Homo sapiens: one gene and its partners. The protein of the gene in region 2 purifies or fractionates together with the protein of the main gene of each other region. This does not show direct contact. Each region holds a gene or a part of one and is shown on either strand. Other genes may lie near its edges.

Region 1 (4,725 bases), on a different chromosome or scaffold from region 2:
ATAGACCCATAAAATAAATCAAATTTTTACAAATCACCCATTAATTTGACTTAATTCTATTGAGCAATAAGGAAAGTTAGGATTTTAAGCATTCTGACAGCATACTGATTAATGTTAAATTTCTAACATTCTGATACATATTTTATAATGCTCTGACTCACCAGGTGGTTGGTCTTGACTTATGTTTAACTTGAGTTCATTTCCCAAGTGTGAATCTGACTTTGGTTTTGGTTTCAAAGAAGGAAAGAATTTCATCATCAGCTCCGATGTAGGAGGACTTCTGCTCCTCCTGGACTTGCTCAAGTCTTCTCCCCTCTTGACTGGTGCAATCTTCCTTTTTATTGTTTTGTCCAGGATACCTATTTCATTATTAGGGTAGCATGTCTGCGGCGTCCCATAAGTGGATTCATTCCCAAGAACAACATCATGGTTACACAAATTCTCTTCAAGGTCAGTCCAAGTTCTTTCATCATCAAAGTCCATTTTACTCAGACTTAGGGATGAGGATCTCGAGGGCTCAGACACTTTATGTTTTATGCTTTCCATGATAGACTCATCGCTACTGTAATCTTTATCAGACAAATCCAGATCAACATCTCTCCTTTTATCTTCTTGGGTCCTGGTGTCCTTAAAAGGCCCCTTATCATCACAGACTTGTGGGCTATCCTCTCTGCTGCTGATGCCCCTCTCTCTATCCTCAGTCGATGGTTTTATGGTAACATCAAGCTGTTCCTCAGAGTCAGTGCTACTGTCACTATTTGGAACACCTTCATCGTCACGTGCATTCCATTCAGTCTGATTTTCAGAAGTGCTCTTTTGGACGGCTTTCCTGATTTTACAAGGCTGTTCCCTCAATTCATCAGCTGAGGACAATGAATGAAGTTGTTTGGGTGCGACTTCACACTCACTCTCCTTCTCACGTGCAGTGTGGTCCAAATCCTCACTGCGGTTACAATGACTAATGGGATCTGCCGGATTTGTCTTCTGTGGCACAGCTTTGACAGGGGTGGAAGACATCCGGTGACCTTTGCAGATCTGTTGATCCCTTTCTAAGATTTTCAGTACAAATGAGGAATTACTAGAAAATGATATTTCATCAGCAGCTTGTTCTAAAAACAAAAATTCATCTAATTCCAAATTTTCCTTTTCCTTTTCTCGTTCCCAAGTCTCTAACTTTTTCTGAAGAGAAACGTCAAGAGAAGATTCAGACTCTTTCATGGTCTCCCTTATGGGGCTCTTAGCAGCCAGCCGGCTGGCCGGCCCTGTTGAAAGAGGAAGTCTGTCTTTACCTTGTGTCTTATTCCACCCTGTGCAGCCAGTATCGCAAGGTTTTGGACACTCAGTTACATTTTCTTTATTATTAGATGTGACTTTGTTTTCAAATTTGATCTGGTCTCTAAACTGCCCATCACATTTCTTCCCCGTCTGTATTTTCAATCCTGACGGAGAAAGACTTTTCCTGTTACTACACTTCAGCATTTTCGGCTTCTGACTGAGGGTGACAGAACCACTCTTGGTTCTAGCTTTACTGTCCTTTTTAAGGATAGGGTTGTCTGCACACAGCTCTTTATTTTTAAGAGCGGTTTTCCGCTGGAGTTGCTGTCTATCCATTTTAAACAGCGGCTGGTCCTCGGAAGTGCTCTGGTTAGTCACTAGTTTACTTTCTTTGCCTTTTTGAAACTTAGATTTGGCATTAGTAAATCTAGCTAAACCTTCTCCTCGTTTTAAAAATGGTTGTTTTGGTTTTGCTTTGATTGGCAATGGTCCTTCTGCTTCCTAAAATAAAAGAATAATATTTGAATTAATTTTGGTATATCCAAGTGATCTCAAAGTTATTTTTAAGGCAAATTATAGATAAATCTCTAAAGCCTTAGAATGATTTAATCAGAAGAGCACAATTGCTGACCTTCAGCTGTTTTTGCTTCAGTTCTTGCTCTTCCAACTGAATTTGTTCTTCTAAGTAATCTTCAAAGGTCTGTTTCCTTTCTCCAATAGCAGCTTTAATGGGCCTAATTAGAAACAGAAAGTTATTTAACATGCAAATCATAATGTGTGAATATTTTACACTTAGTGTGCCTGGTATAGAAACCCTTGACAACATGGAGAACTAACTTTTCCCAAAATCAGTGCCTCCCTTTGAGAACCTAACAAAAGCCACAATCCCTCTCCACACCTTAAAATAAAGAAACATACAACACTCTTCACATGACTTTGGAGTCCTAAGAACCCTTCTGAAGTCCATCTATCGACCACAGATTAACACATGGAGTAACATATTCATCAAATAACTTTAAAATGTATTTCAAAAATAGATCACTAAATATGCATTTTTTTAATTAAGAAAGGCCCTTAATGTGAGAACAATAATCAGAAAAGTCATTTTGTCCATATTATATTAAAAATTTTGAAATAAATTTTTAAAATAATCAACTTACTTAAAATATAAAATACTTAATCTTTGCCATATTTTAAAATTCTGTAACTAAACTGATAATGCAATTATAATTGATAAGTGACACCAAATGGGAGATGTCAATACTTAATTTTTCCCTTCTCCAAAAATAGGATTTAACTATTTGAGAGAAAATTGATTTTATCCAGATGTTTCTCTTAAGTGAAAAAGCTTCGAGAATACAATGTCAAGGCAGCTTGACATATCTCCTCAACCTCTTTTGTTGTTGACAGTACATAATAGGTTGTATCTTTAACCTTAAAAGCATAGTCAAGCAAAAACCAGAAAAATATAGATCTTTCAAACAAAGAAAGTGTTCAATAATAAAGGCTAGCTATTGTACTAAATAGTCACATTTCTCACTTTCAACACGAACAATACCTTTCTTCAATATTAGCCACTTCTGAGGAATCATCATGTTTTTGTAAGTTCTTATCATTTGCTTCCTGAATCTGTTCTGTCACTTTCTCCCAACATAAGATACTTTCTCCTGAGATAAAAATTAAGAACAATTTAGCTCAAGAAAAGCATATTAATGTCTTAAAACATGAGAATTCTACAAGTTACTATGCTAAAACATTTTTTTAATTAAAAGTAATGTATATCACAGATTTTACAACACTCAAGGAATTCTTTAATATAATTAAGAGAAACTACAAAACTCCAATTAAGACACTTGAGGCCGGGTGTGGTGGCTCACACCTGTAATCCCAGCACTTTGGGAGGCCAAGGCGGGAGAATCACTTGAGGCCAGGAATTCGAGCCCAGCCTGGCCAACGTGGCGAAACCCCGTCTCTACAAAAAAAAAAAAAAAAAAAAAAAAAAAAATTAGCCAGGCGTGGTGGCACATGCCTGTAATCCCAGCTACCTGGGAGGCTGAGAGCAAGCAGAGGTTGCAGTAAGCCAAGATGGTGCCACTGGACTCCAACCTAAGTGACAGAGGAAGACCCTGTCTCAAAAATAAAATAAAATAAAATAAAGACACTTGACATTCTTCAAAAGGTTAATGTCATGAGGAAAAAAGTGTGGGGTTTTCTAGAGATTAAAAAGGCTAAAGAGTTGTAAGAATCAAACGTAATACATGAACTTGACTGGATATGCATTAATTTGATTGGATCCTTTAAAAAAAAAGCACCTTTAAAAGATATTTTGGGATAACTGGGGGAATCCCAAAATGGACTTGAATATTAAGGAATTATCATTAATTTCTTTAGATACAATAATAGCACTGTGGTTATACAGATGAATGTCCTAATTTTTGCTTGATGCATACTGAAATATTTGGAATGAAGTAACAAGATACCTGCATATTATTTTCAGTGAAATGGTTCAGCAAATTATACACATATAGAAGTAAAGATAAGGATATACATGTAAAAGATATATATACACATACATACACTGACAAAGTAAATACAGCAAAATATTAACTGCTCAATCTAGGTGGTGGGTATATCAGTAATAACTGCAGTGGTCTTTCAACTTTTCTAGATGTTTGAAATTTTCCAAAATAAAAGGCTATGGAAACATGTTGTATAAAAAAGAAGAAAAACATATTTGAGCTTTCCACACCGATGAATTAACTCTAAATTAGGAACAAGGCATTATGGTTGGGTGCAGTAGCTCAGATCTGCAATCCCAGTACTTTGGGAGGCCAAGGCAGGCAGATCACTTGAGGCCAGGAGTTTGAGACTAGCCTGGCCAACATGTTGAAACCCCATCTCTACTAAAAATACACAAAATTATCTGGGCATGGTGGCACATACCTGTAATCCCAGCTACTTGGGAGGCTGAGACACAAGAATCACTTGAACCCGAGAGGCAGAGGTTGCAGTGAGCTGAGATTGTGCCACTGCTCTCCAGCCTGGGTGACAGAGCGAGACTGTCTCAAAAAAAAAAAACACGCCACAGGGGACAAAAAAAAATAACCATACAGAAAGAGCTGGCAGGGTAGCACGTGCCTATAGTCCCAGCTACCTGAGAGGCTGATGGGGGAAGATTACTTGTGCCCAGGAGATTGAGTCCAGCCTGAGCAACACGGCAACACTCCATCTCTGAAAAAATAATTTTTAAAGAAAAAACATGGAAAGGCTTCATCTTAGGACAACTTAGTAACACTATAAGCACAGAAGAGAGAAACATAAGTAGCTCACCTGTAGGATGGTTACGGTTTTCTTCTTTTAAATTATTTTTTTCCACAGGTGCTTCTTGATACTGTGCCTCAGAAAATAAATTAGGAGACGCACGTTTTGAAGTTAAGACAAAATCTCCAT
Region 2 (4,725 bases):
TCTTAATGAGGAAGGCATGACTAAAGCTGAGATAGGCCAAAAGCTAGGCCTCTTGTGACAAACAGTCAAGCTGTGAATGCAAAAGAAAAGTTCATGAAGGAAATCAGAAGTGCTACTGCAGTGAATACATAAATGATAAGTAAGTGAATCAGCCTTATTGCCGATATGGAGAAAGTTTGACTGGTTTGTGTAGAAGATCAAACCAGACACAACAGACCCTCAAGCCAAAGCCTAATCAAGATCAAGATCCTAACTTTCTTTAATTCTATGAAGGCTGAGAGAGATGAGGAAGCTGCAGAAAAAAAGTTTGAAGCTGGCAGAGATAGTCTGAGGTTTAAGAAGAGAAGCTGTCTCTATAACATAAAAATGCAAGGTGAAGCAACAAGCCATCAATATTGAGGCAAGACCCACCACCAGCAAGAAGATTACAACTTGCTGAAGGCTCAGATCATCATTAAGGTTTTTTTTTTAGTAATAAAGTATTTTAAATTAAGTTAGATATATTGTTTTTTAGGCATAATGCTATTGCACACTTAATAGACTACAGCATAGTGTAAACACAACTTTTTTGTTTTCTTTTCTTTCTGAGATGGAGTCTTGCTCTGTTGCCAGGCTGGAGTCCAGTGGTGTGATCTCAGCTCACTGCAACCTCCACCTCCCGGGTTCAAGTGATTCTCCTGCCTCAGCCTCCCGACTAGCTGGGATTACAGGCGCACACCACCACACCTGGCTAATTTTTGTATTTTTGGTGGAGACGGGGTTTCACTATGTTGGCCAGGATGGTCTCGATCTCCTGACCTCATGATCCACCCACCTTGGCCTCCCAAAGGGCATTACAGGCGTGAGCCACCATGCCCAGCCAAATACAACTTTTATATGCACTGGGAAATGAAAAAAAAGTGTTTGACTTGCTTTATTATGGTATTAGCTTTATTGTGGTGGTCCAAAACTGAACCTACACTATCTCTGGGGCATACCTGCATAATACTTTTTTTTCCCATAAAACATGGATATTTTATTCCAGCTCTAGGAAATGGAAAAAAAGAGGGAAACACATCTTTCTACACACCATTCTAATTTAACTGACATTAATTAGGGAAAGCTAGAGCAGAAATATATGATTATACATATAAATATGTATGTCTTTATACATACATATATGCATTTTCAGATTTTAGTCTCACTGGAGTTCATGTCTTTTTTTTTTTTTTTTTAACTATGGGCCCCTAAAGCTCATTAAATTCAAGCTAATACTTCTACCTAAGTCTCCTCATCAATCATTTAATATTGTTTGCATTGCATTCACAGTTTGTGTGTTAACCACTTATGCAATTTATCAAATTGCACATTTGGAGAGGTAAGGGAAAAACTTGGTTTAAATAATACTCTATGTATCAGTTACCCATTACATGATTTTTTTCATCATTATTTGCAACTTCATACATCTTGTAGTTTTCTATGTAGTCTCTCTATGCAGTCTGCTTCAGGTTCCAGTGCTATACTTGTCTATATGTTCTGGGTGGGACCACCTGTGATCCATGAACTTGGGGTCAGGCATAAACTGTGTAGCACCTGAGGTGGATTCTGATTTGGTGTTTGCTTCAGAGCTGAGTTCTGTTGGCAAGGGCACTGAGCATTTCAAGATGTGAGTTGTTTTTGCAGGTACTTCTATTTCGGCGGGGGATCCTAGCTTAATTTTTTTTCTTTAGGTTTAGGGAGTGACTCTTTTTTTGCTGCTTTTTGTCCACAATGATTTAACTGCTTCAAAAATTTGCTGGCTTGTAGCATATACCTTTTTCCCTGTTACCTTAGCAATTATTACTGACTGAACTGGGTAGCAAACAGTTGCTCATAAAGTGGCCAGTCCCAGAGGATAAGTAATTTTCTTAAACTTAAAACCTTTTCTCGCTGAAACCAAGCCCACCAATCCTGAAACCGTAATAACTCCCATTTTCGGAAGAAAATCTCGAGGAGGATTCTTCAGATAGACATAAGCATCTTTCCCAAATTGTACTGTATCCATTATCCCATTTTTCACAAAGACATAAACATCCTTGCACCAGCCAGTATAATGACCAGTTGCAGTGTAGATGGAAGCAAAGCCCATTTATAAATGACCAGGCTGCTCTTCAACATATTTAGACTGGAGCGGTGGTGCAGTATATACGGGGAGCTGCTCTGGTTTCACTAGCTGCTTTTTGGATTCCTCTTCTTTGGTTCCATGTACATTTACAGATGCATGTATCAGACTTGCAGGCATGGTTGTCAGTTTTCCCATCTACTAGCAGGGTGAAAATCTGAGACATTGACAATGGTAAATGCTGGGGAGAATGAGGAGCAACAGGAAGTCTCATTCATTGCTGGGTGATGAAATAACCTGCACAACAAATGCCCGTGATACGAGTTTACCTGTGTAACAAACCTTCACATGTACACCTGAACCCTGATGACCGCCATGTCTATGACCCTTTTGGCCAAGGTTTTCAGACGACACCTACATAACATTAATAACTAATTACCGAGCACTTCCTATGTGCTAAGTGTGTATGTGGATCATCTCATTTAATCTAGGCAGCCCTTGGAGATAGACACGCATCATCCCCATTTATAAGATAGGGTGACAGAGACACAGAGTGGTTTATTAACTTGCATAAGATGACACAACTGGGAAATGGCAGATATGGGACATGAACTCAGATTACCTGATGCTGGAACCCCTTTTCTTAATCACTACCCAAGGAACAGGGCTGTGAACTTGACTCTACGTCTATGAGATGGGAGTCAGTGACTCTTTCTGGGTCTGAATACTGATTTTGAATTCTGGCTCTACTTCTTTCCTTTTGTGTAATCATGGCTAAGTTACTTAATCTTTCTTAAACTGTATTCATTTATAAAATGAGCATTTGGATCATTAGGAAGCTCAGCTGAGACAAAGAAACAATTAGTCAGAGATCAATCGTCAGTTTTTTAAAAAAAATCAGCTCAAGCATAATCGTTTGTCAAATCAGTTGTCTAAATAATTATTTCAGTCAAATGCATTTTTACTAATTGAAATTGTTTTTTTCACATAGAAATGGCCTCACTCCAGTCTTGCTCGAAGTCTGCTGGGTAAACTGCAAGTTCTAACAGACTAAGAGGAAGTGCTTCAGTCACCTAAGGTCGTATTTTATTTTGTGCTTTTCCAAGCAGTGGGATTATGTAATCACCTCGCATTGTAGCAGTCTTGCTGTTCATAATCTTGCTATTCATGCAGTGGGGTATAGAGAGGCATTAATTTAGGTCTTCATGGATCTCCTGAATCCGCAATGATCATTTGAAAGAAGAATTCCGAGCAGCTTAGTGGTAGAGATAAGACCCAACATTACTTTGCTGATGGAATGGTGGAGGTGTCCTTTTCTGCTGGTCCCCAGATAAGTAAGGAGACCCCAGGGGTGAAAAAACCACAGGAACACAGCTCATCCCCAGGAAACTGGTGGACAAATGAGCAAAGATATATGTGCTAGGGGGTTTAACATAATGCTGTGGAATAAACAGGGAATTGGTTGAATAAATTATTATACACCCATACCCATACAATGAAAAACTTTGCAGTCATTAAAATTGATGTTTTTCTATAATTAATAATATTGAGCGTTACTGATAATATACCATTAAGTGTAACAGAAGAGGTTAAGAATAATTATGTAGACTAGATTTTCATTATAAATACATATGTATGTTTTTTATCTAGGGAAAATGTTAGATGACTATATGCCAATATTTTAGAAGTGGTTATCTCTAAGTGGTGAGATTTTTGAATATTGAAAAAACGCTTTTTTTCTAAGTGCTTAGCTGTGTTCTCTAACTTTTCTATAATAAAATAATTGTATTGCTTATTAAAATTGGACAGTTAGAAAATGAATGAAGTTGGTGGATGAGAGGTAAAAGGTATGAGAGGAATTTAGAAAGTAAGCCAAGCTGAGTAGGATAAGCAAACTATGCAACTAACTTTTTTGGGGAAGGTGTTCCCTACCTGAGAAATAAGCACGTAAAAGCTGGATGAGAATGGGTTTCTGGGGAATGACCCAAATCTGTTAGACCCCCGGGGTTGGGTACATCAGGGAACAATAATTGTTCCTCCATACTTCTTCCTCTCAATTTTCCATTGTAATATCACATTTTTCTGGGTACATGACTACCTGGAATATTGGTCACATTTTTAGCCTTTCTGGTGATTAAGTCCAGGCCAGTGTGGGAGTAAGCAACCTTTAGGAAGCATCCGTCCGGAGTTTTCTTTTCCTCTCCTCCATCTTGCTATGTGGAATGCAGACATGATCCCTAGAGCTCTAGCTGCCATCTTGAATACTGAGGACGAGGGCCACACCTAATAGGGAAGGGGCCTGGGTTTCAGAGCTTCCACACCCATCCTGGATTACTTCACATCCAGACTTTTGGTGGAGAGCTAAATAAACTTCCACCTTGCTGAATGAACTGTGAGGCTTTTTTTTTATTATTTATGAAAAACAGAAAAGAGAAAAGGAAAGAAAGGGAGAATGAGAAGATAAAGAAGAAAAGATCTAAGCCCCTTTAGATTTGCATAATGATAATATCAATAGCTAACCTTTACTGAGTGCTTCTTTCTTGTGCCAGATTCTTTGCTAAGTGCTCTAATTCTCTTTGCTAAGCACTCTCTAATTCTCACAACAATCTTTGAGGTGTGTATTATTTCAAATGTCAATTTTTAGA
Region 3 (5,212 bases), on a different chromosome or scaffold from region 2:
TACCAAAACATTTATTTATAAACATCAACAATAAATGGCACCACTTTATAGTTATTCAAACCAGAAGTCTGAGAGTAGAATTTCCATGTTTAGCAAATAAAAATATCATATGCCCAGTTACATTTGAATTTCAGATAAATAATATACTTTTAAAAATTTTAGTATAAGGGCCGGGCACGGTGGCTCACGCCTGTAATCCCAGCACTTTGGGAGGCCAAGGCGGGTGGGTGGATCACGAGGTCAGGAGATCGAGACCATCCTGGCTAACACGGTGAAACCCTGTCTCTACTAAAAATACAAAAAATTAGCCGGGCGTGGTGACAGGCGCCTGTAGTCCCAGCTACTTGGGAGGCTGAGGCAGGAGAATGGCGTGAACCCAGGAGGCGGAGCTTGCAGTGAGCCAAGATCACGCCACTGCACTCCAGCCTGGGCAACAGAGCGAGACTCTGTCTCAAAAAAATAAAAATAAAAAAAATTAGTATAAGTATATACCAAATATTGCATATACTATTGCATTTACTTATACTAAAAAAATTTTAGTATAAGTACATACCAAATATTGCATATACTATCGCAATTACTTATACTAAAAAATTATTCATTGTTTATCTGAAATTCGAACTTAACTGGGTGTGCTGTATTTTATCAGATAATCCTAGCTGGAATTCTTCCTTTATCACCTCTCACAGACAATACACCACACCAAGACCTGTCAATCACACGTCCTAAAAACATCTAGAATCCATCCACTTTCCTCCATTTATTCTGCCACCACCTTGGTTTAAACCACCAATGCAAGAATCTCCTAGTCAGTCTCTATGCTTCTGCTTTTGCAGGAATATCAAAGTACATCAACCTAACAATAAGAGAAATAAATGCTCATTTCAAGTTTCTTTTCTGGGGTCAATATTTGGTAGCTCTGGAAATCTAAAATCCCTTAATTAGCATGAGAGCCGCCAGTGAACTTACAATGAACAGGTTGAGGCCTCTCATGGGTAACCTCTGAAACAACCCCTCTTCAAGTTTTCCAAGAAAAGTAACAATTTTCCTGGGTATGCTGGAGCCAATGACGAATCCAATCCATTTGCTAATTTGTGTTTATTGATGCAAGGGGATAAACCCGGAAAAATCTGGGCAGAAATGGTAAATTTGGGGCTTAATAAAGTTGCCTTAAAATATTCCTCTGTTTCAGAATGAATTCTAAGATTTATAAAAGAGACTCCTTGATTCCAGTGCATACCTGATGTGAGACAGATTCCTGTCATTCAAATGCATATTCTATGCATTGAATGGAGTATGCCCATCAGCCCAGGTTGCAAAGCCATGGGGCAGAGCACTAAACAATTTGGGCACTCAGCAAGTTATAATTCAAATAAATATAAAACACATGGCGCCAACTTTTTCAGATGACTGATGCTCAGGAACAGTTGATGCCTCCTGACTGGATAGATAAATGTTTTGGTTGCCAAGAGCTAGAGTTCTCTCTGAACACTGCCAGCCTATCACGTTGTTGTCTAATCAATGAATTCTAACAAAGCAGCATATACATGGAAATGCAAGTACAGGTTTCAAGGTTTGTGTGACACCACGGAGCTGTATGAGCTAGCCAAATTGAACACAAATTACTTCATCGAAATAACAGCCAGAACCAAGGAAAAAACGTTTCCCTGTATATCAAAAAGGCCAATATGAGTATTGGCACGAATGACTCATATCATACAACATGATGCCAATTCAAGTGTGTCAAAGTTCTCACAATTTAAATATGAATGTTCACCCACTCAATACAGAGCACCAACAAGTCTTAATATTGTTGGTACTAAACAAAGAATCTCCACTCAAGCTCTTTCCACAAGAAAAATGCATTACAAATTCAGTCAGAAGGGCATCCCCAAGTGTGAGTTACATAGTTAGGGCTCAGTTATTTAATAAACAACCCTTTCTGTGACTAAAACCTAATCACATCACCAAAAACATTTTTGAAAGCCATATCTGAGATACGTTTTCTGTGTATCGTATCTTCTTCTCTACAGTAGAAAAATGACATTTCGTACTGTGGACACACTGGTTAGACCAACATTACAGATTAGAGAAAGATGAATGTCTGGATCAAAGGGGTCGAGTCAACCCTTATAAAACAAGTGTAGACAAATCTTGAAGTCTGCACTTGTATTCCCACGTGTAACCTGCTTTGCTGGTATTCACTGATGAGACAACGTGACAGGCTAGCAGCACTGGAAGATCTGTGGCTCTCACAATCAAAACAGTGTGTCTGTAAAATGATTCAGCCCCCCTTTCCTTTTGGCATCTGAGCTGCAGACCGAGCAAGTTGTTTCTGTCACCAAAAATGCCCTGGGAACTATACATAGAGCCGAAGTGAGCTTTCTTATGAGACTTCCCTTGGGGACAGGTCCAGCATATCTGAAAGGGAACTGCTGTGAGACCATTTTAGCTCAAGGGATCCCAAATCCTTACTGGGATGCTGGTGAGAATGAGTGCTCCGCTGCCGCACCGCGATTTCGACTGCAAAGCTTTCCAACACAAGGTCCACTGCGCGGGGAGCAAGTGTTTGGGAGGCAGGACCTTGGCTTTCCTCAGAATCAGGCCTTTCCGGCGGCCCCCCTCCCAGCCTTCCAGGGCATGGAGCTAGTCCTGTGTCTAAAGGAGTCGGCAGGAAAAAGGCGCGGCAATGCGAGTGGGTGGTCGCCGGCCTGCTCGGTGCCGCCCGGCGACCAACTCTGCGGCGCCGGCGCCGAGTGCCTGGACCCGATTAAGGGGAAGGATTAGAAAGGGGGTGCCCGCCGGGCAGCGTACTCACCCTCCCCTGCGAACGCCCGGGCTCGCGTGCCGGGATCCACGCCCGGACCCCGCGCGGCCTTCCGGGTGAGCTGCCCGCGGCCGCCGGGACCTGCACTGCCGGATAGCTCGGCATGCCTCGGCTCCGCGGTGGAATCTGGCCTGGCCCGTCATCCAGTTCCTGTCCCCGGCAGGCTCCGGCCCAGACCAGGCCCCCGGCCTCTCACCCCGACCTCAGGTTTCCGCCACAGCCCCCAGCCCAGGCCCTGGACACGCGTCCGGCCCCTGCCTCCGTGCCCGGCCCCCACGCCGCCTCCCGTCCCTCAGATCTCCGGCCGGCGTCCCCACGACCGGCCCCGACTAGGCCCCCGGCTGGGCCCTTCTTCAGCTGGGCGCGCACCTCTCCTTGGAGTAGAGCTGCAGCTGCTGCTCCTGCTGCTTCTTCCGGATAAACGCCATGGAGGGTAGGCGCGGGCGGGCGCAGAGCGCACAGGCAGGCCCCGCCGCCGCCTGCCGAGGAGGTCCGGAGGAGCCGGGGAGGGCGGGATTGGTGGCCGGCTGGGGAGCGCGCGGCTGCCGGCCTGGCTTCCCCTGCGGCGCCGCTGGGCGGCCGAGAGCCCGACGCGGCGTCCCGGCCGCGCTCACCGCAGCATCCTCGCGTGGGGACTCCGGCGGCACCGTGACTCAGGCCCGGAGGAGGGGCGCGCGGTGACACGAGGCGCCCCAAACTCAGGCCGCCTCAGAGGATCGCCAGGGCCAGCGGCCAGACCAGGATCCGACCTCACACACTAAACGTTTCACCACTTTACCAACCATTGCAGGCTGCGTTTTAAATATTTTACGCATAAAAAGGGATGCTGGCCCATAAACCACCAATCTGTTGGCCACAAAGACTTGAAATAACAACGTTTTGTGTCCTCCATTGTGAAAAAAAAAAAAAGACGGAAGTTAAAGGGGTGAAGGCAACTCAGTCGTAACTATTCCAAATACACCAGGAATAAGTGGAGATTTATAGCCAAGGAGCAAGGAGCAGGTGTTCGGAAAACTGCTAAGAGGAAACATCAATTCTGGGGGAAATTCTGGCTGAACCAACCTAACAGGAGTCCCAGTGAAGGCAGGCCAGGGGGTCAGATACTAAGGGTAGGAGTAAAGAATTTTGATCACATATGGAGGGTGGGGGATTCTTGCTAAACTGCCGTGGCAGTGTTACTTCCTAACACTGCATTTACAAGGAAGTGCACACAAGGACCTGGGAGAAGATTCAGAAGCCTAACTGAAGTTTGGCCAAGCAAAGAATCTTTAACACAGTCTCTTGATTGTTGAGATAATTGCTCGCATGATTTTTTTTTATATAACAGCTTTATTGGGATATAACTCACATACCAAACAAGTCAACCATTTAAAGTATACCATTCAGCGATTTTTAGTATATTTCCAGATATGTTCAACAATCACCACAATTTGAGAACATTTTCATCACATGTAAAAGAAACCCATACCCTCTAGCTGTCACTCTTCCTAACTCTACCCTCCAAACCCCAGCCCTAGCAAACAATAATCAATTTCCTGTCTCTATGGGTTTGCCTATTCTGGATATTTCATATAAATGGAGCCATACAATATGTGGCCTTTTGTGTCTGGCTTCTTTCATTTAGCGTAATGCTTTCAAGGTTCATCTATGTTGTAGCATGTATCTGTACAGTACTTCGTTCCTTTAGATTGCTGGAGCATATTCTGTTGCATTTTGTTTATCCATTCATCAGTTGATGGACATTTCAGTTGTTTCCACATTTTGGCTATTGTGAATAAGGCTGCTGTACACAGTCATGTACAGTTTTTTTATGGACCTATGTTTCCATTTCTGTTGAGTGGAATTGGAATCTAAGAGTGGAATTGCTGGATGTGGAGGCGAAAGCAGCTCCATCTTGGAAGCTAATCCTCCGTGTTGACTTCTGATTGACCCCAGTTCTGGGAAGGCCTCTAAGATTTCTACTTTATCTATTGTTCCTTGTGTAAGAGCAGGTATCTACCCAGTATGTTCTGTCCTTAATTCAAACAACTTGATGTTATTATACTTCAATTGTCCTACACATCCCTTCTGAACCACCCCTCCCCTATGGTATATAAGCCCTAAGGGGCTGGAGTGATGGCTCATGCCGGTAATCCCAATGCTTTTGGAAGTTGAAGCTGGAGGATTCCTTGAAGCCAGGAGTTCGAGACCAGCCTGGGCAACAAAGCAAGACCCTGTCTCTACAAAAAATAAAAAATAAAAATTACCTGGGTACAGTGGCACACACCTATAGTCCCAGCTACTGGAGAGGCTGAGGCAGGAGGATTGCTTGAAGCCAGGAGTTCGAGACCAGCCTGGGCAACAAAGCAAGACCCTGTCTCTACAAAAAATAAAAAATAAAAATTA

The links. The genes of interacting proteins can lie anywhere in the genome.
Region 1: the proteins of SH3RF2 (region 2) and CPAP purify together in Homo sapiens (affinity purification with mass spectrometry; one large-scale study listed by BioGRID and IntAct). This does not show direct contact.
Region 3: the proteins of SH3RF2 (region 2) and NSMAF purify together in Homo sapiens (affinity purification with mass spectrometry, with the first as the bait; one study listed by BioGRID). This does not show direct contact.

The regions. Positions count from the first base shown.
Region 1 is NC_000013.11:24,905,185-24,909,909, forward strand, and holds part of CPAP (centrosomal P4.1-associated protein), read right to left. Parts: coding exon 4,606-4,725; intron 2,943-4,605; coding exon 2,834-2,942; intron 2,010-2,833; coding exon 1,907-2,009; intron 1,777-1,906; coding exon 162-1,776; intron 1-161. UniProt on the Homo sapiens protein: Plays an important role in cell division and centrosome function by participating in centriole duplication. Inhibits microtubule nucleation from the centrosome. Involved in the regulation of slow processive growth of centriolar microtubules.
Region 2 is NC_000005.10:145,994,771-145,999,495, reverse strand, and holds part of SH3RF2 (E3 ubiquitin-protein ligase SH3RF2), read right to left. Parts: intron 3,159-4,725; exon of another isoform or gene 3,072-3,158; intron 2,280-3,071; exon of another isoform or gene 996-2,279; intron 1-995. UniProt on the Homo sapiens protein: Has E3 ubiquitin-protein ligase activity. Acts as an anti-apoptotic regulator of the JNK pathway by ubiquitinating and promoting the degradation of SH3RF1, a scaffold protein that is required for pro-apoptotic JNK activation.
Region 3 is NC_000008.11:58,656,377-58,661,588, forward strand, and holds the start of NSMAF (protein FAN), read right to left. Parts: upstream 3,478-5,212; 5' UTR 3,256-3,477; coding exon 3,197-3,255; exon of another isoform or gene 2,971-3,196; coding exon of another isoform or gene 2,819-2,970; exon of another isoform or gene 2,476-2,818; intron 1-2,475. UniProt on the Homo sapiens protein: Couples the p55 TNF-receptor (TNF-R55 / TNFR1) to neutral sphingomyelinase (N-SMASE). Specifically binds to the N-smase activation domain of TNF-R55. May regulate ceramide production by N-SMASE.